7 linked regions of the Homo sapiens genome follow. The protein of the gene in region 1 purifies or fractionates together with the protein of each later gene. This does not show direct contact. Each region holds a gene or a part of one and is shown in the gene's direction. Other genes may lie near its edges.

Evidence for each region.
Region 2: the proteins of CCDC9 (region 1) and KIF1C purify together in Homo sapiens (affinity purification with mass spectrometry; one large-scale study listed by BioGRID and IntAct). This does not show direct contact.
Region 3: the proteins of CCDC9 (region 1) and KCMF1 purify together in Homo sapiens (co-immunoprecipitation; one large-scale study listed by IntAct). This does not show direct contact.
Region 4: the proteins of CCDC9 (region 1) and TBCCD1 purify together in Homo sapiens (affinity purification with mass spectrometry; one large-scale study listed by BioGRID and IntAct). This does not show direct contact.
Region 5: the proteins of CCDC9 (region 1) and E2F3 purify together in Homo sapiens (pull-down; one large-scale study listed by IntAct). This does not show direct contact.
Region 6: the proteins of CCDC9 (region 1) and PPP2R3B purify together in Homo sapiens (affinity purification with mass spectrometry; one large-scale study listed by BioGRID and IntAct). This does not show direct contact.
Region 7: the proteins of CCDC9 (region 1) and FYTTD1 purify together in Homo sapiens (affinity purification with mass spectrometry; one large-scale study listed by BioGRID and IntAct). This does not show direct contact.

Annotation. Positions count from the first base shown.
Region 1 is NC_000019.10:47,266,525-47,269,488, forward strand, and holds part of CCDC9 (coiled-coil domain-containing protein 9), read left to right. Parts: intron 1-86; coding exon 87-268; intron 269-2,964. UniProt on the Homo sapiens protein: Probable component of the exon junction complex (EJC), a multiprotein complex that associates immediately upstream of the exon-exon junction on mRNAs and serves as a positional landmark for the intron exon structure of genes and directs post-transcriptional processes in the cytoplasm such as mRNA export, nonsense-mediated mRNA decay (NMD) or translation.
Region 2 is NC_000017.11:5,007,950-5,011,449, forward strand, and holds part of KIF1C (kinesin-like protein KIF1C), read left to right. Parts: intron 1-3,500. UniProt on the Homo sapiens protein: Motor required for the retrograde transport of Golgi vesicles to the endoplasmic reticulum. Has a microtubule plus end-directed motility.
Region 3 is NC_000002.12:84,977,661-84,981,160, forward strand, and holds part of KCMF1 (E3 ubiquitin-protein ligase KCMF1), read left to right. Parts: intron 1-3,500. UniProt on the Homo sapiens protein: E3 ubiquitin-protein ligase which accepts ubiquitin from an E2 ubiquitin-conjugating enzyme and then transfers it to targeted substrates, promoting their degradation by the proteasome.
Region 4 is NC_000003.12:186,564,540-186,568,524, reverse strand, and holds the start of TBCCD1 (TBCC domain-containing protein 1), read left to right. Parts: upstream 1-1,185; 5' UTR 1,186-1,258; intron 1,259-3,985. UniProt on the Homo sapiens protein: Plays a role in the regulation of centrosome and Golgi apparatus positioning, with consequences on cell shape and cell migration.
Region 5 is NC_000006.12:20,485,379-20,488,878, forward strand, and holds part of E2F3 (transcription factor E2F3), read left to right. Parts: intron 1-1,310; coding exon 1,311-1,425; intron 1,426-2,734; coding exon 2,735-2,870; intron 2,871-3,500.
Region 6 is NC_000023.11:338,408-341,907, reverse strand, and holds part of PPP2R3B (serine/threonine-protein phosphatase 2A regulatory subunit B'' subunit beta), read left to right. Parts: coding exon 1-25; intron 26-511; coding exon 512-601; intron 602-967; coding exon 968-1,143; intron 1,144-3,011; coding exon 3,012-3,130; intron 3,131-3,197; coding exon 3,198-3,304; intron 3,305-3,500. UniProt on the Homo sapiens protein: The B regulatory subunit might modulate substrate selectivity and catalytic activity, and might also direct the localization of the catalytic enzyme to a particular subcellular compartment.
Region 7 is NC_000003.12:197,770,383-197,773,882, forward strand, and holds part of FYTTD1 (UAP56-interacting factor), read left to right. Parts: intron 1-3,020; coding exon 3,021-3,117; intron 3,118-3,500. UniProt on the Homo sapiens protein: Required for mRNA export from the nucleus to the cytoplasm. Acts as an adapter that uses the DDX39B/UAP56-NFX1 pathway to ensure efficient mRNA export and delivering to the nuclear pore.

The DNA of each region.
Region 1 (2,964 bases):
ATCCTGAGCAAGTGGATGTGCCTCGGGGCTTAGGGGCGGGGTAGGGTGCGGGACATCACCCTGACTCCCTGTGGGCTGGGGGGCAGGGCCGCCGAGCTGGCCTGGGCAGTGCTGGAGACATGACGTTGTCCATGACGGGCCGGGAGCGGTCGGAGTACCTGCGCTGGAAGCAGGAGAGGGAGAAGATCGACCAGGAGCGGCTGCAGAGGCACCGCAAGCCCACTGGCCAGTGGAGGCGCGAGTGGGATGCCGAGAAGACCGATGGGATGTGAGTCTCCTCCCCGCTCCTCTCCCCATGTGGCACGTTGACCTTGGCCCTGACTTCTAAGTCCTATGCCTCTCTCTGGTTTTTCCTGCTGTGTATGAGTGAGTGACTGCCAAGTATCCTGAGATGCCATGGACCAGCTGCTGGAGCTCAGCGGCACGTGAGAGCATTTCTGGTTTTCTTTTTTTTTTTTGAGACGGAGTCTCGCTCTGTCGCCCAGGCTGGAGTGCAGTGGCGTGATCTCGGCTCACCGCAAGCTCCGCCTCCCAGGTTCACACCACTCTCCTGCCTCAGCCTCCCGAATAGCTGGGACTACAGGCGTCCGCCACCACGTCCAACTAATTTTTTGTATTTTTAGTAGAGACAGGGTTTCACCGTGTTAGCCAGGATGGTCTCAATCTCCTGTCCTTGTGATCTGCCTGCCTTGGCCTCCCAAAGTGCTGAGATTACAGGCGTGAGCCACCGCGCGCGGCCGAGCATTTCTGGTTTTCTTTTTGTTTTTGGAGACAGAGTCTAGCTCTGTCGCCCAGGCTGGATGGAGTGCAGTGGGAGGATCTCAGCTCACTGCAACCTCCGCCTCCCGTGTTCAAGCAATTCTCCTGCCTCCGCCTCCTGAGCAGCTGGGGTGAGAGGATTTCTTCTGTGTTCATGGGTATGCTGGGCTGAGCTGATCCAGGCTGGACGCTAAGCTGTGGGTCCCGCTGGGCTTGGCTTCTTGCAGCAGGGTGAATTCACTCTGCGCCAGGGTGTTCATTCTGCTGTCCAGGCTGAGGGCAGCAGCTGCCTGGGGAGCGCTTGCCCTGACATGGGCAGATGCACAAGCAGGCACACTTCCCAGTTGTGTTCGCCAGCACACCCCGCCTCACTGGGGCGGGGAAATAAGCTCTGCCCCCTCCAGTGGATAGGAACACCGGTGGCGGCAGGGACATCAGTTCCAACGCAGGGAGGGCATGAAGGCTGTTTAACAGCGATTAGACCTTTGCATCCTCCTGCCAGCCTCTGACCTGTCCCCAGCAACTCAGATCCCTGAATGTCTCCATGCCTCACCGTCACCTTTTTTTTTTTACTTTTTTTTTGAGACGGAGTCTCGCACTGTTGCCGGGGCTGGAGTGCAGTGATGTGATCTCGGCTCACTGCAACCTCCGCCTCCTGGGTTCAAGCGATTTTCCTGCCTCAGCCTCCTGAGTAGCTGGGATTACAGGCACGTGCCACCACATCCAGCTAATTTTTTGTAATTTTAGTAGAGGTGGGGTTTCACCATGTTGGCCTGGCTGGTCTTGAACTCCTGACCTCATGATTCACCCACCTCAGCCTCCCAAAGTGCTGAGATTACAGGTGTGAGCCACCGCGCCCGGCACCACCACCTTCTTAACCCAGTGGCATTGTTAACCTCAAGTTTGACTTTGTCCCCCGATTCAGTCAGACTTAAAGCAAAGCCCTCATTGCATCATCGTCATGGGGACCAACTTCCATAACCAAGAAGGAGAAGGTTCTGGAAGAGCCGATAAATAGCAGTATTTAAAGATCAGCAACTTTAGGTTTTACCTCATCCCCCATTCTTTCCTGTGTTGAAAGTTTTCATTCACCTATAACTTGTTTTTTGGCTTTGGCTAAGGAGGATTTTGTCTGTTTGCCCAGTGGTCGGGAAGCATTTTGTTGTGGATTGTGAACCAAGCCTGTGCGAGTGTGAGAAATAATTTGCACAGATACTATAGCTGATCTTCCTAAGGAGGAGGCAGCTGGGCTTTTGGGGAGATGTTCTCAGCATTCACAATGAGAAAGTATTTGTTTTTCTTATGTGTCCTAAAAGCAGTTTGCAACAAGTCTGATGAATAATGTTTGTGTGGGCCGGGTGCAGTGGCTCACGTCTGTAATCCCAGCACTTTGGGAGGCTGAGGCAGGTGGATCACGAGGTCAGGAGATCAAAACCATCCTGGCTAACACGGTGAAACCCCGTCTCTACTAAAAATACAAAAAATTAGCCGGGTGTGGTGGTGGGCGCCCTGTAGTCCCAGCTACTCGGGAGGCTGAGGCAGGAGAATGGTGTGAACCTGGGAGGTGGAGCTTGCAGTGAGCCGAGATCTCACCACTGCATTCCAGCCTGGGCGACAGAGAGAGACTCCGTTTCAAAAAATAATAATAATAATAATAATAATGTGTGTCTGGGCCAGGCGTGGTGGCTCATGCTTGTAATCCCCACAATCCCAGCACTTTAGGAGGCCAAGGCTGGAGGACTGCTTGAACCCAGGAGGTTTGCAGTGAGCTGTTATGATGCCACTGCACTCCAGCCTGGACCACAGAGCAAGACCCTATCTCTAAGAAAAAAAAATGCATGGTGTCTTGCTTTCATCAGCATATATTTGAGTCCTCCTCTATGTCATGGAAGGTTCTAGGTGATACAGCAGCAAACAAAACATTTCTGCCTTTTTGGAACTAAGAGTGTAGTGGGCAAGGTGGGTAATTAAGAGGTCTAATGTTAGGCCCAGAAGGATAATGATGCAGAGTAAGCAGCCAGGGTGGAGGTTAGAATTTTAGACTTAGATAATCTGTGTAATAATATTATCTTTTTTTTTTTGTTTTTTTGAGACTGAGTCTTGCTGTGTTGCCCAGGCTAGAGTGCAGTGGTGTGATTTCAGCTCACTGCAACATCGCCTCCTGGGTTCAAATAATTCTGATTCAGCCTCCCGAGTAGCTGAGAT
Region 2 (3,500 bases), on another chromosome or scaffold:
TGCAGCGAGGGGTTGGTTATAGATGGAGGCACCCGTGTAGCTTGGAGCTATGCTGCAACTGGTTTCCTGGAGAAGGTGGTTTGGAAAGTGGAACCTGAAAGATGGACAGGACTTGGGAAGTATGGAGGAGTAGGGCCAACATGAGGTTGAAGAGCCTGGGGTACATGTTGGGGTGAGTGGGACACGCCAGTGCCTGACACGTGCCTGCCGCCAGGTTTTAGGTACCTAATAAATCTTTGCTGAAAGGAAGGAAGGAGCAGGGCGGGAGAGGTCAGGCTCAGGTGGAGGCAGGAATGATACTCCAAATATTAATAACCATCCGGCATAGGGACTGACCAGTCAGAAAGGACACTGGATATAGACAGCCAGCACCGCTGTACCGGTGCATACCAGTGAAGGGATGGTGCAGAGGCCAGTATACCAGTGAAGGGATGGTGCAGAGGCCAGTTTGAGCAGAGCATGAACTTCCAGTTCCACCAGGGAACCAGCCCAGCCCGTCTGGACCATGGTGTGAAGCAGCAGAGGATCAGGCCCTAAGTCAGATACACTGTGCTCTGAGCCAGACAGTGTCACTGGGGGCTGCCTGGAAGAGGTGATGGGTTACCAGAAGAAGGCTCCTCTCTGTTTTGTAAAGTCAGGTCCATCTGGGGGACTAAGCAAGCAGGGATCACTGAACCCCTGTTCTGAAAAGAGGAGAGGGGTTTTGCCTTGCCTGGCCCAAGCCACATTGAGGGAGTGAAAGAGCTGTGGGCGGTAGGCCAGGCTGCGTGTCTGGGGTCTTGTCTGGGGCTGGGTACCCTGGGGCTTTGGGGTCCTTCTGAGGGATCCAGACTCTTCTGGGACCCAGCCACACCTAGGTGGAAAGAGGGGCTACGGATGCGCTCAGCATGGCTTCCAGCCACCTTTGTATACCTGGAGCTGGGCCGCTTCCACCACGGTTGCAAGGATGGAGGAAAAGCAGAAAGGACTGGGGAGACTGGTGGGGTGGAGGTTTCTTCCTTGGAGAGCTTGCAGAGATGCCACCTGCCAAAGCCTGGGGACCAAAGGAGGGGGTTCTTGTTTTAATTGTTCTTATAAAGGTAATACACACCAGAGAGAACATTCTAATAGTTCTAAAAGGTGTGTACAGTGAAAAGTCTCCAATTTACAGCATTTTGTTATAGAAAAAAAAAAAAAGTAACTCTCCATCCTTCCCACCCTTAAGTTTCCCCTCAGAGGCAGCCTTCATTATGAGTTCTTTTTTTTTTTGAGACGGGGTCTTGTACTGTCACCCGGGCTGGAGTGCAACGGTGCAATCTTGGCTGACTGCAACCTCCGCCTCCTGGGTTCATACGATTCTTCTGCCTCAGCCTCCCAAGTAGCTGGGATTACAGGCGCACACCATCACACCCGGCTAATATTTTGTATTTTTAGTAGAGATGGGGTTCACTATGTTGGCCGGAGTGGTCTTGAACTTCTGACCTCGTGATCCACCCACTTCGGAGTCCCAAAGTGCTGGGGTTACAGGTGTGAGCCACCGTGCCAGGCCCATTATGGGTTCTTACTATATTCTCCTTGGGTCGGGCCTGGTGGCTCACACCTGTAATCCTAGCACTTTGGGAGGCCAAGGCGGGTGGATCACGAGGTCAGGAGATTGAGACCATCCTGGCTAACACAGTGAAACCCCGTCTCTACTACAAATACAAAAAATTAGCCACGTGTGCTGGCGGGCGCCTGTAGTCCCAGCTACTAGGGAGGCTGAGGCAGTAGAATGACATGAACCCGGGAGGCAGAGGTTGCAGTGAGCTGAGATCGCACCACTGCACTCCAGCCTGGGTGACAGACAAGACTCTGTCTCAAAAAAAAAAAAAAGAAAAAATGTTCTCCTAGAGATGCTGTCTAGGAGATGTTATAACACATGTACAGGCATATGTTATATAGAACTATACACATTTACTCACATTCACGGCCTCTCTAATAGTTGTAGTTGCATATCTATTTTATTTATTTATTTTGAGACAAGAGTCACACTCTGTCGCCCAGGCTGGAGTGCAGTGGCACAATCTCAGCTCAGTGCAAACTCTGCCTCCCAGGTTCAAGTGATTCTCATGCCTCAGCCTCCCAAGTAGCTGGGATTACAGGCACCCACCACCACGCCGGGCTAATTTTTGTATTTTAGTAGAGACAGGGTTTCGCCATGTTGGCCAGGCTGGTCTCAAACTCCTGGCCTCAAATGATGCACTGGCCTTGGCCTCCTGAAGTGCTGGTATTACAGGTGTGAGCTACTGTGCTTGGCCTGCATACCTTATTTTAAAGCTTCCTTTATTTTTTTCACGGTGTCAGGGTATTCTATTGTGTAGATGTAGGATAATGTATTTAACCAGCTTCCCACTGATGGACATTCAGATTGTTTCCCATTCCTTGATACTACAAAAAAAGGCTACAATGCATAGTCTTACAAATGGGTGTTATCTGTAGAGCAGATTCCTAGAAATGGAGATTTTGGGTCAAATGGTAGCCATGTAAAATTTTAATCTAGGCCGGGTGCGGTGGCTCACGCCTGTAATCCCAGCACTTTGGGAGGCCGAGGCGGGCGGATCACGAGGTCAGGAGATCGAGACCATCCTGGCTAACAAGGTGAAACCCCATCTCTACTAAAATAGAAAAAATTAGCCGGGCGTGGTGGCGGGCACCTGTAGTCCCAGCTACTTGGGAGGCTGAGGCAGGAGAATGGCGTGAACCCGGGAGGCGGAGCTTGCAGTGAGCCGAGATCATGCCACTGCACTCCAGCCCAGGTGACAGAGCGAGACTCCGTCTCAAAAAAAAAAATTTTTTTTTTAATCTATATTGCCAAAGTGCCCTCTGAAGATTATAACCATACCAATTTATTTTACTTTTTTGAGATGGAGTCTTGCTGTGTTGCCCAGGCTGGAGTGCAGTGGTGCAATCTCGGCCCACTGCAAGCTCCGCCTCCCGGGTTCACGCCATTCTCCTGCCTCAGCCTCCCAAGTAGCTGGGACTACAGGCGCCCACCACCACTCCTGGCTAATTTTTTGAACCATACCAATTTATACTCCCAAGGGTAACATACAAGAGAGCCCATTTCCCCTCGCCCTTTCCCACATTCTGGCTTAGTAAGACTTTTCTCTTTGCCTGTGTGATTGGTGAGAAGGTGTCTTAAGGTAGTTCACTTTTACATTTTTCTCAAGGTGGTGAGGATGAACTCTTCTCATGTTTAAAAGCCATGTGGTCTAAAGCCAGAAGAGAGAACTGTTAGACTCATGGGGAAATGGGTTTGGTGTGAGTAGCTCCAACAGGGAATAGTTGGGTCTTAGAGGAAAAAACTACAGTTTGTCTTGGAGGGAGCCTCCTCTTGCTAAGACCCCCACCACCAGGGCTAAGGATTGCTTAAATCAGTGGTGTTCAAACCTGGTTCTGAGCTGCCTTCTCAGGGGCTGAGGATAGGGACAGGACCAGACCCTGGGGCTCTCACCCCCAGCCTGGGCCTGAGCAGCTTCTTG
Region 3 (3,500 bases), on another chromosome or scaffold:
GATTCTCCCACCTCAGCTCTCGAGTACTGGGATTATAGGTGTGAGCTGCCATGCCCAGCAACTTTTTCAGTTTGAATAAATCGTAAATTACATTTACCTTGACTTTCAATAGAGAATATATAAGAATGTAAATTTATGGGAAAATGAATCACATTTTAATTTCTGGGGTCTTTGATTTCATAATTTCATTTAAAGTTCATTTTGAAGCTCATTTTCCCATATTTTTATATTCATGTTTAAGTTAAAATGTAGTAAAACATAACTACATGTTCTTGTTTCAAATTGGGAACTCAATTTGGAAGAGATTCCTTTTAGTCTGAGATTTTAAGATGTTTTAGCAGCAATCTTTTTTTTTTTTTCTTTCCTCGCTCTTGTTGCCCAGGCTGGGGTGCAATGAGGCGATCTCAACTCACCGCAACCTACGCCTCCCAGGTTCAAGTGATTCTCCTGCCTCAGCCTCTCGAGTAGCTAGGATTACAGGCATGCGCCACCTCACCCAGCTAATTTTGTATTTTTAGTAGATAGAGGGTTTCTCCATGTTAGTCAGGCTGGTCTTGAACTCCCGACCTCAGGTCATCCACCCGCCTCGGCCTCCCAAAGTGCTAGGATTACAGGCATGAGCCACCGTGCCCAGCCTTAGCAGCAGTCTTGTAAGATGGTAACTTTTTCACAGTAGCAGCTTATGAAACTTATGATGTGAAATAACTAAACAGACCCCTTCATATTAAGCTTTGCAACCTTTTTAAAAGAAATCCATGCATCATAACTTATTTTCAAAACATCAACTTTATGATATCTATCATATATATTTGCCTAGGTTTTTTGTCTTTTGGTTTTTGGGTTTTTTTTTTTTTATACTTTAAGTTTTAGGGTACATGTGCACAATGTATTTGGGTTTTTTTTTGAGACAGAGTCTCACTCTGTCATCCAGGCTGGAGTGCAGTGGCATGATCTCGGCTCACTGTGGCCTCTGTCTCCCAGGTTCAATAAATTCTCCTGCCTCAGCTTCCCAAGTAGCTGCATTACAGGCATGTACCACCATGCCTGGCTAATTTTTGTTTGTTTGCTTTTTGAGATGGAGTTTCGCTCCTGTTGCCCAGGCTGGAGTGCAATGGCGCGATCTCAGCTCACCACAACCTCCACTTCCTGGGTTCAAGCGATTCTCCTGCCTCAGCCTCCCGAGTAGCTGGGATTACAGGCATGCGCCACCATGTCTGGCTCATTTTGTGTTTTTATAGAGACAGGGTTTGTCCATGTTGGTCAGGCTGGTCTCGAACTCCTGACCTCAGGTGATCTGCCCACCTCAGCCTCCCAAAGTGCTAGGATACAGGCATGAGCCACCGTGCCTGGCTAATTTTTGTATTTTTAGTAGAGATGGGATTTCACCATATTGGCCAGGCTCGTCTCGAACTCCTGACCTCAAGTGATTCCCCCTTCTGCCTCCCAAAGTGCTGGGATTACAGGTGTGAGCCACCGCGCCTGGCCATGTTTTTTTTGTTTTTAAACTAGAAGCTCCAAAAGTTTTTAGTGAAGGCTAAGCTGTCATTGAATTATCCTAGAAATAATGTTTTTTAAATCACTTTATGAGCTGGGCGCTGTGGCTTATGCCTGTAATCCCATGGGAGACCAAGATGGGTGGATCACTTAAGGTCAGGATTTTGAGACCAGCCTGGCCAACATAGTGAAACCCCATCTGTACTAAAAATACAAAAAAATATCTGGGCGTGATGGCAGGCGCCTGTAATCCCAGCTACTCGGGAGGCTGAGGCAGGAGAATCTCTTGAACCCAGGAGGCGGAGGTTGCAGTGAGCTGAGATCACCCATTGCACTCCAGCCTGAGCAACAAGAGCGAAATTCTGTCTAAAAAAAAAAAAAAAATCACTTTATAAATATAGCTGTGGGGCTACTTTCATGCATATGGACTCAAAGGAAGCGCTCCCTAAACTGCATATTCATAAAAGTTAAAAGTAGAATGCTGTTCCTAATAAAAGTCTTTTTTTATAGAAGATTAATTTTTTAATTAATTTTAGTGTTGTGCTAAGGACCATGATGTTTTTCATTTCCTTAAAATTATAAGGTATTTTTTCAGTCTTTGAAGTTATTCATTAAAATTGAGAAAAGAACCCGTAAGCAGTATACAGATCAGAGCATCTTAAAATTTGGTAATTTTTTTTTTTTTGAGACCGAGTTTCACTATTGTTGCCCAGGCTGGAGTGCAGTGGCGCGATCTCGGCTCACCGCAACCTCTGCCTCCCGGGTTCAAGTGTTTCTCCTGCTTCAGCCTCCCAAGTAGCTGGGATTACAGGCATGCGCCACCACGCCCGGCTAATTTTGTATTTTTTTTTTTTTTGTAGTAGAGATGGTGTTTCTCCATGTTGGTCAGGCTGGTCTTGAACTCCTGACCTCAGGTGATCTGCCCACCTCAGCCTCCCAAGTGCTGGGATTACAGGCATGAGCCACTGCGCCCAGCCAGTTATTTTTATATGTTAGCCATGTCTTGATTTATGTTAAAGATCTGGGATAAGGCAGACAGTTTCCTAAAGGAACATATTACCTAGATTACATGAGAAGGAAGTGAGGAGCCAGGAAAAGATAGGCTGTTCTTGGGTTGGTAAGGACCAGTGGCCAGGTGGGTGTTGGCAGAGGAAAGACAGGCAAGGTGGGTGTGAAGCTTGGAAATGGATCTGTAGCTACAGGATGTTGGAAACAGAAAACCAGCTCTCACGCCTGATGGAATGTCTTGAGAGCTGGGTACCAGGAAGTGAAAACACTGCCCAATGAAATGAACAAGAGATGAATGAATTGCCTTGTTAGGCACCTTCCACCATTCCCTCTCTGCTACATCCCTGATGGCCCTCTTGGTGTTTGTTAACCATGGTAACTGCCTGTAGAATTGTTTTTAGTTGTTGGCTCTCTGAGTTGTAGCAAAGTAGAATTATGAGTTCATCCAATTCATATACACAGTCAATTAGCCTCATATCTTTTTTTTTTTTTGTCTTGAGGCCGGGTCTCACTCTGTCACCCAGACTGGAGTCCAGTGACATAAACAAGGCTTACTGCAGCCTCAACCTTTGGGCTTACGTGATCCTCCTGCCGCAGCCTCCCAAGTAGCTGGGAGTACAGGCATGTGCTACCACGCCTGAATAATTTTTGAAATTTTTGTAGAGATAGGGTCTCATTGTGTCATCCAGGCTGGTCTTGAACTCTTGGGCTCAAGCAATCCTCTTGCCTCGGCCTCACAATGTGCTGGGATTATAGGTGTGAAGCACCACACCCAGCCTAGCCTCATCTCTTCTATGGCCACAGTGCCAGCCAGCAGTCCATCAAACTTTGCCAGTGGCCACGGGGGTACTGGCAAAGAAGTATAGATGGATCCCTGTAACTTAATCACTGCTACTAGAAAAAAAAAAACTGAGATCAGAAGAGTGGGTCAGTTGTATTACCCTCAGCTAGAAGAAATAGCAGAAGAATAAGTGGATGAAGCATCTTGATATCATGAC
Region 4 (3,985 bases), on another chromosome or scaffold:
AAAGAGCACCTTAGAACAGTGCCTGGCATGGAGTAGGTGCTGAAGTACTTTTGAGTCAAAGTTACTGGGATGGTGATCATTGTATGGCTGGCTTCTTACTCTTCAGGCCTCAGCTCAAATTTGGCACCACAAAGTGGCCTTCCCTGACCCCCCGCCCCAATTTTCATAGCATTTTTCACTATTTGAAATTATCTTATTTTATTCCTTAATATGTATTGTCTATTCTCCCTGTTATACACTCCAAGAAAGCAAGGACCTTGTCTGTTTTGTTCACTTCTGTCATTCTAGTGCGTACCACTGTGCCAGACACACAGTGGTACTCAACAAGTAACAGCAGGGTCACTGAGCTAATAAGTGGTGCAGCCTGGATCCTAACCCAGGTATGTGTAAATTTGAAGCCCCTGCTTTCAGGAAGATACCCAGTAGGGACAATGGCCACACAAAAGAGGAACTAAATTGCATTTTACGGTCTAATTTACCTTTGTATCTATCACACCTAGAGAGGCCATAAAGGAACTAAAAAAAGCAGGAAATGTCCAGAAATTCTGAAATGGAAGTTTAAAGGAAGGAGTGATGGCTTCTGCCCGGTAATCTGAAAAAGCTTCATGAAGGTGGAAACACGGCAGGAAAGCTAACAGAGTTAAGGAGCTGACACCGAGGGGCGGCAGGGAGTGCCAGTCTTGCTTCAGACGCCCTGGGCTTGAATCTTGGCTCCATCTCTTGTGTGACCTTAGGGTTGTGTTATTTTCACCTTTCTAGGCCCTAGTTTCTTCATCAGTAAAACGAATGTACTTAAAGGGCTCTTGACAAGACTTAGGAAATACACATAAAGTTGCTTTACACAGTGCTGAGACCATAGTAAGTGCTCTATAAATGCAAACTGCCATTAGTATTAGTAGCATTTCTGATGAAAGCGTGCTGATCTTACCAGCAGCTATTAGCTGACCACAGTTATGCGGAGCAACAGAAAGCTTCCTACCCCCCCGGGTTGAAAGGCGCGACACCAGAAAGCGGTGGGTCTGGCTCCAGGTGCCACTGTTGCGGACTCTCGACCCCAGCCTAGATTTTCTCAGACGCTTGAGCCGCAATCTGCCGCTCTAGCAACGGGGTCCGCCAGGTCTCGGTGGTGCGGGGCCTCGCGCTTGCGCAGTGGGCACGGCAGCGGCGCGCGGAGGAGGGTGAGGGGCGGGCCCAGCGAGCGGACGCCGGGCGCGGCGGCGCGCGGAGAAGTGCGGCGGAGCGGCGCCTGCATTAGCAGGTAACCGCGCACTGGGTGCGCCGGGGAGGGCGGTGTGGGTTAGTCAGGCTTCAGGCTTGGGTCGAGGAGGCTGCCTTCGCGCTTACCGCGTCTCGGGTCAGCTACCGACCCTGTCAGCGTGAGCGTCTGTGTTCCTGAAGTCCGGTCGCGACGCTGGGGCGGCCCACGCAGAGTCCCACCCCGGATCGCGTCCAAGGTGGCGGCGAAGCCCCAGGACAGCCGCCTTGGACCCACGCCGATCTCCCGACCTGAAAAACCTTAACCTCAGGGCACCGCCAGGGTCAGAGCCCCAGTTTATGTTTGTTTACGGATTGAGCCCTCTCGATTCTCGGAGTTAGAATGGAGGGCTCATCTCTGGGATCTGGCTGTTGACAGGGGCTCAGTACCTCACAGAGCAGCCTCTTTACATTTTGGAGAGAACCGAGGTCTTCCTCGCCTAACTTTTATCGTCTGGTTTTACTCAAAACGACTCCAGTCTCTCCACATTGGAAGACAGCTGCCTTTTGCCCTTCCACGCCCTTCTTTTGAGTTTACTCTCCCTGGTTCTTTCACCTGGCTTCCTGTCTAAGACTCTTTATTCTGGAAATTCTCTTCTGGATCCACTCCCGTTTTTAAGAGATTCTCCCAAAACTGGATTCCTAGAGTACATTTATAGTAATGCAGTTCTCAAGTCAGACCTGAATCCTAATCTAGAGCTGTGCCAGCTAAGTAGGTGTCCTTAGGGAAATCCCTTAACTTCGCTAAGCCTCATTTTTTTTTCATCGAAAATGTGTACAGTCTTAAGTACTGTATCTCCAGGTGGTTGTGAGGATGAAAGGAGGTGAAGTATGCAAAATCATGAGCATGATACCTGGTACATAGTAAGCACTCGATTGATGTCAGTTATTTTTCCGAACAGATGATTCTCGAGAGAGGCACAGTTGGCAGGCCGGGTGCGGTGGGTCACGCCTGTAATCCCAGCACTTTGGAAGGCCAAGGCAGGCGGATCACCTGAGGTCAGGGAGTTCAAGACCAGCCTGGCCAACATGGTGAAACCCTGTCTGTACTAAAAAAATACAAAAATTAGCCTGGCGTGGTGGCGGGAGCCTGTAATCCCAGCTACTTGAGAGGCTGAGGCAGGAGAATCGTTTGAACCTGGGAGGTGGAGGTTGCAATGAGCCGAGATCGAGCTATTGCACTCCAGCCTGGGCAACAGAGCGAGACTCCGTCTCAAAAAAAAAAAAAAGAGAGAAGCACAGTTTTCTTAGAATCAAATGCAAAATATAATAATAGCAATAAAATTTTCATCAGTCATATAATTGATTTTTTAAATTAGTTTTTATATTTTTAAAAAAATGATGTTGCTAATGTTGAGGAGTGCACAGTGAAGTAGGTACCAGAGTCAAAGGATGGTACAATTTGATAAAATCATTTGGAAGCAACAAGGATATATTTCACAAGCTTTAGAAATGTCAATTACTTAATTTCACAAAAGTACATCTGAAAATTTTCACACAGAAATAATTCGTAATGCAGAAAATATGAAGAAAGATGGTAGTGATAGCATTATTTACACTTGTGACAACATTTGAACTTTTGTAATGAAATTTTTTAACATACACAAAAATAGAATCAGTGAGCCCCCCACGTACCCATTACCCCACTTCAATAATGATCAGTATTTTGCCTATGTTGTTTTTGTGAAAAATCTGAAACCTAGTAAGGTGTCTAAAAATGGGAGAAGAGTTGAATAAAATGGGATACATTTATTTAGAATACTATAAAGCTTTTGAAACAGTACAGAATTGTGTATGTAACATCACAACTGTGAAAATTCAAAAACTAACATCTAATTTATGTGTAGAAAAAAGACAAAGAGGCCAGGCATAGTGGCTCAAGCCTGTAATCCTAGCACTTTGGGAAGCTGAGGCGAGGGATCACTTGAGGTCAGGAATTTGAGATCAGCCTGGCCAACATAGTTAAACCCCATCTCTACTAAAAATACAAAAATTAGCCAGGTGTGGTGGTGGACGCCTGTAGTCCCAGCTACTGGGGAGGCTGAGGCATGAGAATCGCTTGAACCTGGGAGGTGGAGGTTGCAGTGAGCTGAGATCATGCCACTGCACTCTAGCCTGGGCAACAGAGGGAAACTCCATCTCAAAAAAAAAAAAAAAAAAAGAAGAAGAAGAAGGAAATACAATAAAATATTAATTTGTTGCCCTTTACTTGTGGGATTGTGGATGGTTCCCTGTTTTTGTATTTTATAAATATTCCATAAAAATCATGTATCATTGTTACAACAAAAAAAAATCTAAAAAATCACACCTGAACTGAGCAGGATCAAATATGCTAGAGTGGGTTCACTGTTATAGAGAATAAAGATGCTGTAACTTCTCCTGATCTATTCTTGCAGTCTACATTTACATTAGCATTCTTGCCTGCTGCCTCACATTAGCACTTCATATTGAATTTATATGCTCAGCTAACATGTCCAGATCTTTAACCAACTGTCTTCTGTGTAAGTGATTTAACTCTGTGAAATGTATTTCCCTTATTTTGAACAGTGTTCCCCCTCAGAGTAGAAAAAGGTTTCCTGTGATAGGATGACTTTTTTCCCCTCATTCATTTTCTTCCTGGGATCTCACTCAGACTTCATGCATCTACACACACTTCCTAAAACAAGGATTTCTAACAATTCAAGTAAGATAATTTTGTTTTATCACAATTTTTTTCTCAGATTATAATGAG
Region 5 (3,500 bases), on another chromosome or scaffold:
GACCAGCCTGGGCAACAGGGTAAAACCCCATCTCTACTAAAAATAAAAAAAATTAGCCGGGTGTGGTGGTGCACGCCTGTAGTCCCATCTGTTTGGGAGGCTGAGGCACGAGAATCATTTAACCCCAGAGACGGAGGTTGCAGTGAGCTGAGATTGGGCCACTGAACTCCAGCCTGGGTGACAGAGCAAGATTCTGTCTCAAAAAGAAAAAGGAAATAACTACCAAGAGTACTGAGATATTATACTTTTCTCTTTTCCTAAATCAGTGTTTCTCAAATTCATTCAAGTCGCAGAGCACCTGGAAACTGCTTTCTTCCTCATGAACACTGAAATATTGATAGAGTTAATATAGTATCACGCAAAGCATAATTTTTCTAACAGAAATAATGACACTCTTTTCTGTAGGCAGTACATAATCACAACCAGCCCAGGTGCACTTAAGAAAACAAGCTGTCTGCCTGAGCAGTATTCTGAGTTCCTCCACTAATGTATTTGTTACTTATTTATTTACTTGGTGGCTGCTGACACTTGCTTGTAGATAGAAGTAACTGGAGTTTCAAAAAAATTATGGCTAATAGAGATTACATTTTTTTTTCCTGCAAATTGGAATCTGCCATCATTCAGTTTGAGTGACAGAACACTTTATTGGAGTTCATGGAATGCCTGTGCTGCAAAGGACCCTGGCTTCAAGATAAAATTTCTGACCACTTAGTTTTTTATTTTCTTATGATCATTTATTTTAACTGTTCTGTTTCTATGTTTAATATTTTAAATAGCCATAGTCTTTTTAGAAATGGGCGGGATAAAGCTATTCATTTCTTTAGTTGTTTAGAGTGTCAACCAGAAATGAAGATTCATGGGAGACCCTAAACATTTGCACATCCAGAAGGGGAGACATACACATACTTTTTTGAGAAGGAGTCTCGCTCTGTCGCCCAGGCTGGAGTGCAGTGGCGCGATCTCGTCTCACTGCAAGCTCCACCTCCCGGGTTCATGCCATTCTCCGGCCTCAGCCTCCCGAGTAGCTGGGACTACAGGCGCCCGCCACCACGCCTGGCTAACTTTTTGTATTTTTAGTAGAGACGGGGTTTCACCGTGTTAGCCAGGTTGGTCTCCATCTCCTGACCTCATGATCCACCCGCCTCGGCCTCCCAAAGTGCTGGGATTACAGGTGTGAGCCACCGCGCCCGGCCACATATGCATACTTCTAAGTCATAAAATACTTTAAAATATTCCATGCATCTATTTTGTCATTTTCATCATACTTATATCTGAGGTAATTAGATGGAAGATTCCTTGACACTCTTTACGTTAGCTTATGTTACATATCAAGATATTCGAAAAATTAGTGGCCTTAAAGACCAAACTGTTATAGTTGTGAAAGCCCCTCCAGAAACAAGACTTGAAGTGCCTGACTCAATAGAGGTAAGGAGACAGCGTCTTTGTTCATCTGCAAAGATCTTTGTGGAATGCCTGAAATTGAATGACTCATTGACTCATAGTTAAAGTCTGTCCCCCTCCTATGAACTTGATGGTTCTTTCCCATTTATTTTACTTAACCATACATTTGAAAACATTTCAATGGTTTGATGTTCATTGAGTATTCAAACAACCTAACTTTGACCTAGCAGGATGTTCAGTTCAAAGTGGTATATGATGCGCTGTCCCTCTCATACTTTCTCTTTTTCATAATTTGTCATCAACGGTTTTGATCAATTTGAATCACTTTGGAAAGTTTATATTGATTATCCTGTATATGGTCCCCACCACGAACAGATATATAAATGTTTTAAAGTCTCTCCCTAACTTATAACATTTTGAGAGATCACATGGGGCTTTGGGTTAGCTGATAGACTAGAATATTGCAAGAAAGTAGGGGGCATATTTTTGTAATTTTCAGATATACTTGGATAATAGAGGCCTAGACTACAACTATAACATAAAGAGTTGTAGTAAAAAGAAAATGCATAGGAGATAAAAAGAGAATGAAAGTTACACGCTTCCATCTAGGGTAGACTTCTTACCTTAAAAGATAATAATAGCTCTTTGACCTAGATGAAAAAGATTTTTAAATGTTGGTATGCTGCATTCTCTTAATAGATGCAGTTCCTAGCACTTAAGAATACTATTCATCAGTATACAGTTCAACATGAAAAAGTCCTACCATAAAGGAACAATAACATGGAGATACTGAATTTGGAACACTTAAAGGACCTTGTAATAATTTGCAGAAAAAGAATATATCCAAAGAACACAATTCACCTCACCCATTGTGCTATTTTCAGAATGACTCCCCTCTCCCCCAAGCCCCACTAAAATAGTTTTCTTTCTCTAGGGCAGGACTCAGCAAACTTTTTCATTGAAGTGCCAGGTAGATAGTAAATATTTTTGGCTTTGCGAGCCGTACAGCCTGTGTCTAGACTATTCAACTGTGCACCTCTGACATTGTGATACGAAAACAGCCAGAGGCAATAATAAACAATGGGAATGGATGTGACTCTCTTCCAATAAAACTTTATTTACAAAGCCACTTGGTGAACTGGATTTGGCCCTTAGGCTGTGGTTTGCTGACCCCTGCTCTAGAGGATGACAGTCTTTCATAGAGTTGGACTAGTAGGGAAAAAGCAAGTGAAAAACGAACATTGTTCTTACTTTCCATTTTTAGACAAGAATTACTATGGCTTTTATTTCTAAAAGAACTTCTGATTCGAACTTCTCCCACTTCTGTTCATAGAGCCTACAAATACATTTGGCAAGTACCCAAGGGCCCATTGAGGTTTACTTATGTCCAGAAGAGACTGAAACACACAGTCCAATGAAAACAAACAACCAAGACCACAATGGGAATATCCCTAAACCCGCTTCCAAAGGTAAAAACTCCACTTTTGTCTTTTAGAAACTATGTTAAAAATGAGGGTGACTAGAACCATCTGTATTGGAACCACAAGCCTAGGCAAGAAACACAAACTTCTATTGGTATTAGGTAACATGTTTTAAAAGACATTCTGACTGGTTTGCAGAAGAAAATAATGATTTGGGAAAAACGGCTCCTTCACCCACTTATGGAGTCGCTTCAGGCTTTTGCTATTGGCAGAGAATGTTTCCTTACAGCATTTTTGAAAACCAGCTAAAGTGAGGAGCAAAGCTGTGAACTGTCTTGTTGGATCATCAGAGACACTTGGCCACACACCTTTGAATCACACTGCAGAGCTCATCAGAGAGGGAAATGAAAAAGGTTTGAGGAGAAAAGCCTTTGTTGGAGAATTTTTGTCTTATTTTCCCCCCCAATGAGATGGGGAGAGGATATGGGAGGAGAACGCTAGGAAAGTAAGTCTTGCCGGGTGCGGTGGCTCACACCTGTAATCCCAGCACTTTGGGAGGCCGAGGCAGGCAGATCACGAGGTCAGGAGATCGAGACTGTCCTGGCCAACACAGTGAAACCCTGTCTCTACTAAAAATACAAAAATTAGCTGTGCGTGGTGGCACGTGCCTGTAATCCC
Region 6 (3,500 bases), on another chromosome or scaffold:
GGATCTTCTCAGGAGCAGTCACACGGTACGTACGGCTCAGGCGCCTGACGGCAGCCATTGCCCCTGCGAGGACCCCGGTCCCTCTCCTCATCGTTGCCTGACGTGAGCTTTTTGTGCCCCGACAGCGAGTGGTTGTCACCCCAGGCCCTGGCGAGGGGGGCACGTGTCTCTGTCACGTGAATCCCTAGTGGGGGGGGGTGGCACAAGACTGTCACGCGAAGTCTGAGGAAGGGGGTGGCCCAGGCCCCAGGTCGGGGGTTCTTGTCGGGCGCTGGGCCTGAGTGAGCAGTAACGAAGGTGCACTCCTGACCCTGCCTGGATCTGGGGAAAACCCTCTGGCCACGGGGCCTCCACCTCCTCCCCGGAGAGGCAGGAGGAGGGGCAGGAGGGGGGCAGGAGGAGGGCCGGGCCCGGGGGGCTCCCCTCACCGAGGCGCGTGGACAGGGGCTCCGTTCCTGTGAAGCTCTCCCTGACATGCATCTTCGTCTCTCCATCCTGGCTTTCGATCTAGAGGCAGAAAAGTGCAGAAGGAAGGGAAGATCAGCTATGCCGACTTTGTCTGGTTTTTGATCTCTGAGGAAGACAAAAAAACACCGACCAGGTGGGTTCCTGCTGCGGCATGCGTTTGTCCCAGTGGAGGGGCCGGGAGCCGCCCATGTGACATGTGTCCCCAGGCGGATGCCTGCACGCCTGGTGGGGGCTGCACGGCACAGGGGGACATGTGCACGCCCGGTGGGGGCTGCACGGCACAGGGGGACATGTGCACGCCTGGTGGGGGCTGCACGGCACAGGGGGACGCGTGCGCGCCCGGTGGGGGCGGCAGGGGGCAGGGGATGCCTGCACGCCCGGTGGGGGCTGCAAGGCACAGCGGGGACGCGTGCACCCCCGGTGGGGGCTGCCTCAGGGGCTGCAGGTCACGGGCTGGGAGGGCCCAGGGCAGGGGCTGACAGAGCTCGCCGTGCCGCAGCATCGAGTACTGGTTCCGCTGCATGGACCTGGACGGGGACGGCGCCCTGTCCATGTTCGAGCTCGAGTACTTCTACGAGGAGCAGTGCCGAAGGCTGGACAGCATGGCCATCGAGGCCCTGCCCTTCCAGGACTGCCTCTGCCAGATGCTGGACCTGGTCAAGCCGAGGACTGAAGGTGATGCCCCGTGAGGGCATGGCCCAGGGTGAGGGGACGGACGGGCGAGAGGACGGCCCAGGGTGAGGGGACGGACGGGCGAGAGGACGGCCCAGGGAGAGGGGACGGATGACAGCCCAGGGAGAGGGGACGGACGGGAGGGAGGACGGCCCAGGGAGAGGGGACGGACGGGAGGGAGGACGGCCCAGGGTGAGGGGACGGACGGGAGGGGGGACGGCCCAGGGTGAGGGGACGGACGGGAGGGGGGACGGCCCAGGGTGAGGGGACGGACGGGAGGGGGGACGGCCCAGGGTGAGGGGACAGACGGGAGGGGGGACGGACCAGGGTGAGGGGACGTCCCTGTGAGGCGCTGTCCTACTGAGTTTGTGAGGAGGGCCAGCACCACAGGTGCCTAGTCTCACAGTGCAAGAACCTCCTATTCGGGGCGTCGACACCCCCCGAGGGGTGACCTAGAGAACCTAGGGCCGGAGCTCACCGGGGACGTTGGCACTGGGCTGAGGGAGCAGTTGCCACGTTCGTGCTGATGCCGCACAAGGCGGTCCTCCCCTCACCCCCCCCCCCCCCGTCTCCTCCCCTCTCACCCCGCCCCCCCCGTCTCCTCCCTTCTCACCCCCCCCGGCTCCTCCCCCCCTCTCGCCCCCCCCATCTCCTCCCCTCTCACCCCCCCCATCTCCTCCCCTCTCACCCCCCCATCTCCTCCCCTCTCACCCCCCCCATCTCCTCCCCTCTCACCCCCCCCATCTCCTCCCCTCTCACCCCCCCCATCTCCTCCCCTCTCACCCCCCCGGCTCCTCCCCTCTCACCCCCCCGGCTCCTCCCCTCTCACCCCCCCGGCTCCTCCCCTCTCACCCCCCCCAGCTCCTCCCCTCTCACCCCCCCCCGGCTCCTCCCCTCTCACCCCCCCCCGGCTCCTCCCCTCTCACCCCCCCCCGGCTCCTCCCCTCTCACCCCCTCCGGCTCCTCCCTTCTCACCCCCCCCGGCTCCTCCCCTCTCACCCCCCCCGGCTCCTCCCCTCTCACCCCCCCCGGCTCCTCCCCTCTCACCCCCCCCCCGGCTCCTCCCCTCTCACCCCCCCCCGGCTCCTCCCCTCTCACCCCCCCCCGGCTCCTCCCCTCTCACCCCCCCGGCTCCTCCCCTCTCACCCCCCCGGCTCCTCCCCTCTCATCCCCCCCCGGCTCCTCCCCTCTCACCCCCCCCGGCTCCTCCCCTCTCACCCCCCCCCGGCTCCTCCCCTCTCACCCCCCCCGGCTCCTCCCCTCTCACCCCCCCGGCTCCTCCCCTCTCACCCCCCCCCGGCTCCTCCCCTCACCCCTGTTCCCCCCACACCATCTCCCCAGCTCCTCCCACCCACCCCCGTGCCCTCTAAGGCAAAGGGGAGCCCCACCGTCCACGCCGCCTGGCTTCCTTCTGCATCTCAGAATCCAGCTCTGGGACTTTCACTTTGGAAATGGCTCTGAGGCCCGGGCACCGCCCTGCAGCCCTGCCCCCCCCGGCCATGGGGCGCCTCCTGCTGCTCAGTGTCCCCGGGACACCCTCTGGCCTCTGCCTGCACGGGGAGCTCCGTTCTCTGTAATTTCAGATCCAGCAGCGCCCCTGCTGGCCGCGCCTCCCTGCGCTAGTCCCAGTCCACGCATCCTTGGGGCACCGGTGGCCCCTAGTCGCCTCCGCATCACGGCCTCCCACGCCTCAGTCCCCACCCAGAACCAGGACACTCGCGTGTCCGCCTTTCACGTCAAACACGTGGCGTGAGAGCCCGGAGCTTCGTGCCGCGTCCTTAAGCACGTGTGACAGGACGCGCGCACCCCACACCCAGGCCCCGAAGGTGAGACCGGGCTCACGCGCCTTGGACGCACTCCCCTCCCCGCAGGGAAGATCACGCTGCAGGACCTGAAGCGCTGCAAGCTGGCTAACGTCTTCTTCGACACCTTCTTCAACATCGAGAAGTACCTCGACCACGAGCAGAAAGAGCAGATCTCCCTGCTCAGGGTGAGTGCGGCGGGCACGCGGGCCGGGCCGCGCCACGCCGTGTACGTAACCCGTGTGCTTCCTCCAGGACGGTGACAGCGGCGGCCCCGAGCTCTCGGACTGGGAGAAGTACGCGGCCGAGGAGTACGACATCCTGGTGGCCGAGGAGACTGCGGGAGAGCCCTGGGAGGACGGGTGAGTGGGGAGGACGGGTGAGTGGGGGGACGGGTCAGTGGGAGGACGGGTGAGTGGGGAGGACGGGTGAGTGGGAGGACGGGTGTGTGTGCAGCCGGGGGATGCGGGGTCAGTCAGGTGGGGTGCGCGGACACAGAGGGGCGGGGTGAGACCTGACACGGGGCCGGTGAGGTAAGGACAGCCGATGACAGGGCCG
Region 7 (3,500 bases), on another chromosome or scaffold:
CATCCACATGGATGTATCCAGTAATAGCTTGTTTATTAGATGAATTCTTACTGATGAAGTTAACCGATATAAGCTTTTTAAAAAGCATCACTCTGCTTCTTTACCTCTTTGACATATGGAATAAAATTGCAAAAGCTGATCACTTTAGTAGAACTCTCTTTTTTTTCTCCCTGTTTTTTGAGACAGGGCTTCTCGATCTGTTGCTGAGGCTGGAGTGCAGTGGCGCCATCACTGCTCCCTGGAGCCTTGGCCTGCCCTGGGCTCAAGCGATCCTCCCACATCAGCCTCCTGAGTAGCTGGGACTGCAGATACATGCCACCATGCCCTGCTAATTTTTTTTTTTTTTTAATAGAGACAGGGTCTCACCATGTTGTCCAGGCTGGTCTCAATTCCTGGCCTCAAGTGATCCTCCCACCTCAGCCTCCTAAAGTGCTGGGATTACGGGCATGCGCCCCTGTGCCCAGCCCTGGTAGAACTCTTAACATCTTAGTGGGAATTATTCAAAATTGAGAATTCTGAAATCTCAATTTGTTACTCAGTCTGGATGGCTCTTACTAGAACACTGAATCACAATGTATGTTATTTGTGGAAAAATCAAACTAGAAAGGGAGAATTCTTCATGAACACTTGTTAAACTGAAATTATTTTTATACTAAATTGAATAATAAAAACCAAAAATTATGGCCTGTGAGCTGGGTGCAGTGGCATGTGCCTGTGGTCCCAGCTACTTACGAGGCTGAGGCAGGAGGATCACATGAGCCCAGGATTCAGGGCTAACCTGCTGGGCAACATAGTGAGACCCCCATCTCTGAAAAAGAAAGAAAAGAAAAATTATGATCTGTTGTTATGGCATTCTGTTCTCTGTAAGGACAAAGTAGATGAAGTTGATGAGGTGTGAAGTTTCCTTATTCAGTTTCAAGTATTATTTATTTATCTTTCGTGGAAGATAAGTCAGCAAAAAAAACCTGGAATGAGGTTTTTAAAAAATGCAGTGGCTGGGCACAGTGGCTCATGCCTGTATTCCCAGCACTTTGGGGGGCTAAAGCAGGCAGATCACCTGAGGTCAGGAGTTATGTGGCAAAACCCCATCTCTACTGAAAATGCAAAAATTAGGCCGGGTGCGGTGGCTCACGCCTGTAATCCCAGCACTTTGGGAGGCCGAGGCGGGCGGATCACGAGGTCAGGAGATCGAGACCATCCCGGCTAAAAACGGTGAAACCCCGTCTCTACTAAAAATACAAAAAATTAGCCGGGCGTGGTGGCGGGCGCCTGTAGTCCCAGCTACTTGGGAGGCTGAGGCAGGAGAATGGCGTGAACCCGGGAGGCGGAGCTTGCAGTGAGCCGAGATCCCGCCACTGCACTCCAGCCTGGGCGACAGAGCGAGACTCCGTCTCAAAAAAAAAAAAAAAAAAAAATGCAAAAATTAGCCCGATGTGGTGACCGGTGCATGCCAGCAATCCCAGCACTTTGGGAGGCCGCTGCGTGTGGATCACCTGAGGCCAGGAGTTCGAGACCAGCCTGGCCAACATGGTGAAACCCCATCTCTACTAAAAATACAAAAATTAGCTGGACGTGGTGGTTCATGCCTGTAGTTCCAGCTATTTGGGAGGCTGAGGCAGGAGAATCGCTTAAACCTGGGGGGCGGAAGTTGCAGTGAGTCAAGATGGTGCCACTGCACTCCAGCCTGGGTGACAGTGAGACTCTGTCTCAAAAAAATAAAAATAAAAAAACAAAAAATGGAATGGCTGGAATTGCAGTTTTAACCATCATCTTTTGGGAATCACTTGATAGTACCTTTTGTGAAAGGGGACCTTCTCAAATAAGAACCCATCATTTACGTGAGACTTACATGTTAATTGGGTTAGCTAGGGCAGTTTTGAACTTGAATCTCTGAAAGATTGGAGGTAAGACTAGGGAATCTGTTAAACACTCGTTTATATAGTGTTTCATATTTATCAATACATCAGTTGAAGACATGGAATGTTAGAGGATTGAATATTTCATAGATAAATATGAAATTTTAATTTTTCGTACTTCACTAACTTCCTATAGAAAACAAAAGAAATTAGGTGCCGCAAACCACCATGGCACATGTATAGCTACATAAGAAACTTGCACGTTCAGCACGTGTCTCAGAACTTAAAATTAAAAAAAAGAATTGGTGACAGTCATAATTAAGAGCATTGTTCTGTGCATGAAAGAACAAGAAATAGAAGAGTATAAGTTTTTCTGTGGTTTGTATATTTTTTGAGATGAAGTCTGTGTCGCTGGGCTGGAGTGCAGTGGCGTGATCTCGGCCCACAGCAACCTCTGCTTCCCTGATTGAAGCAATTCTCATGCTTCAGCCTCCTGAGTAGCTGGGACTACAGGCGTGTGCCACCAAGGCTGGCTAATTTTTGTGTTTTTAGTAGAGACGGGGTTTTACCATGTTACCCAGGCTGGTCTCAAACTCCTGACCTCAAGTGATCCACTCACCTCAACCTCCCAAAGTGCTGGGATTACAGGTGTGAGCCATAATGCCTGGCCTCTATGGTTTATGTTAATACATAATGGTTTCTGAGTGAGGAAGGAAGAGAAAGCTGGAGGAGGAGATGTTATTTTTCAAACCTTTCTCTTTATTTTTGGTCTTCAGTTTATTTTACGTCTTCAGTTTGGCCTATGTGTGGTTTTTCTTTGTACTAATCCTATAAATTGTAAAGTTATGTTTTCACCAAATATAGGAAATAGCACTAAAAATGTGATTATTAATGTCTTCAGAAGATATATGGGATATTAGAGGATTGAATATTTGGAAGATAAAGTGGTTTGAAATTAACACGTGGTTATGTGCTATGCTTCGGAGGGAGGTATTTGTTAATCAAATCTCAGTAGCTTCATGTTAATAAGCAAATAATTCAGAGTTGTTTGTTTCTTGCACCTCATGTTTGCAGCCTATGAATTTAACTATTTTTGCTTATTTTTCCTCAAGATGTTTGAAAGTAGTTAAATGGCTTAGCATGGCCTATGTGTTTTTGTTGCAGAAATAACATTCCAGCTAATTTTACCAGGAGTGGAAATAAATTAAATCATCAGAAAGATACTCGTCAGGCAACTTTTCTTTTCAGAAGAGGCCTGAAGGTATTTAAAAACTTTGGCAGTGTTTTTGTTTGTTTGTTTGTTTTTTCCCAAAGAGGATCCTGAGCAGCCACCTTTAGTAAGCCTCAGTCATAGGCAGCATTGGGTTCAGGATGTGAGGCACGTGGTAGTAGATTAGTTCTTCCTGTTGTATGTTTTTTATTTCCCATCTTTTCTTACCCTCAATAGCAATGTCTTATAAGAATTTAACTCGTTATTTGGGAATAAACCTGTATTTGCCACTCGTTCTCATGTAGGAATTCCAACAGGGAACTGTTGCCAGAATAGCGTGGGCCCCTCTGCTGCACTCACGCACACACCCCACTGGGTTAGGAAGTTCTAGAATAGCACGGGCCCCTCCGCTGCACTCACGCACACGCCCCACT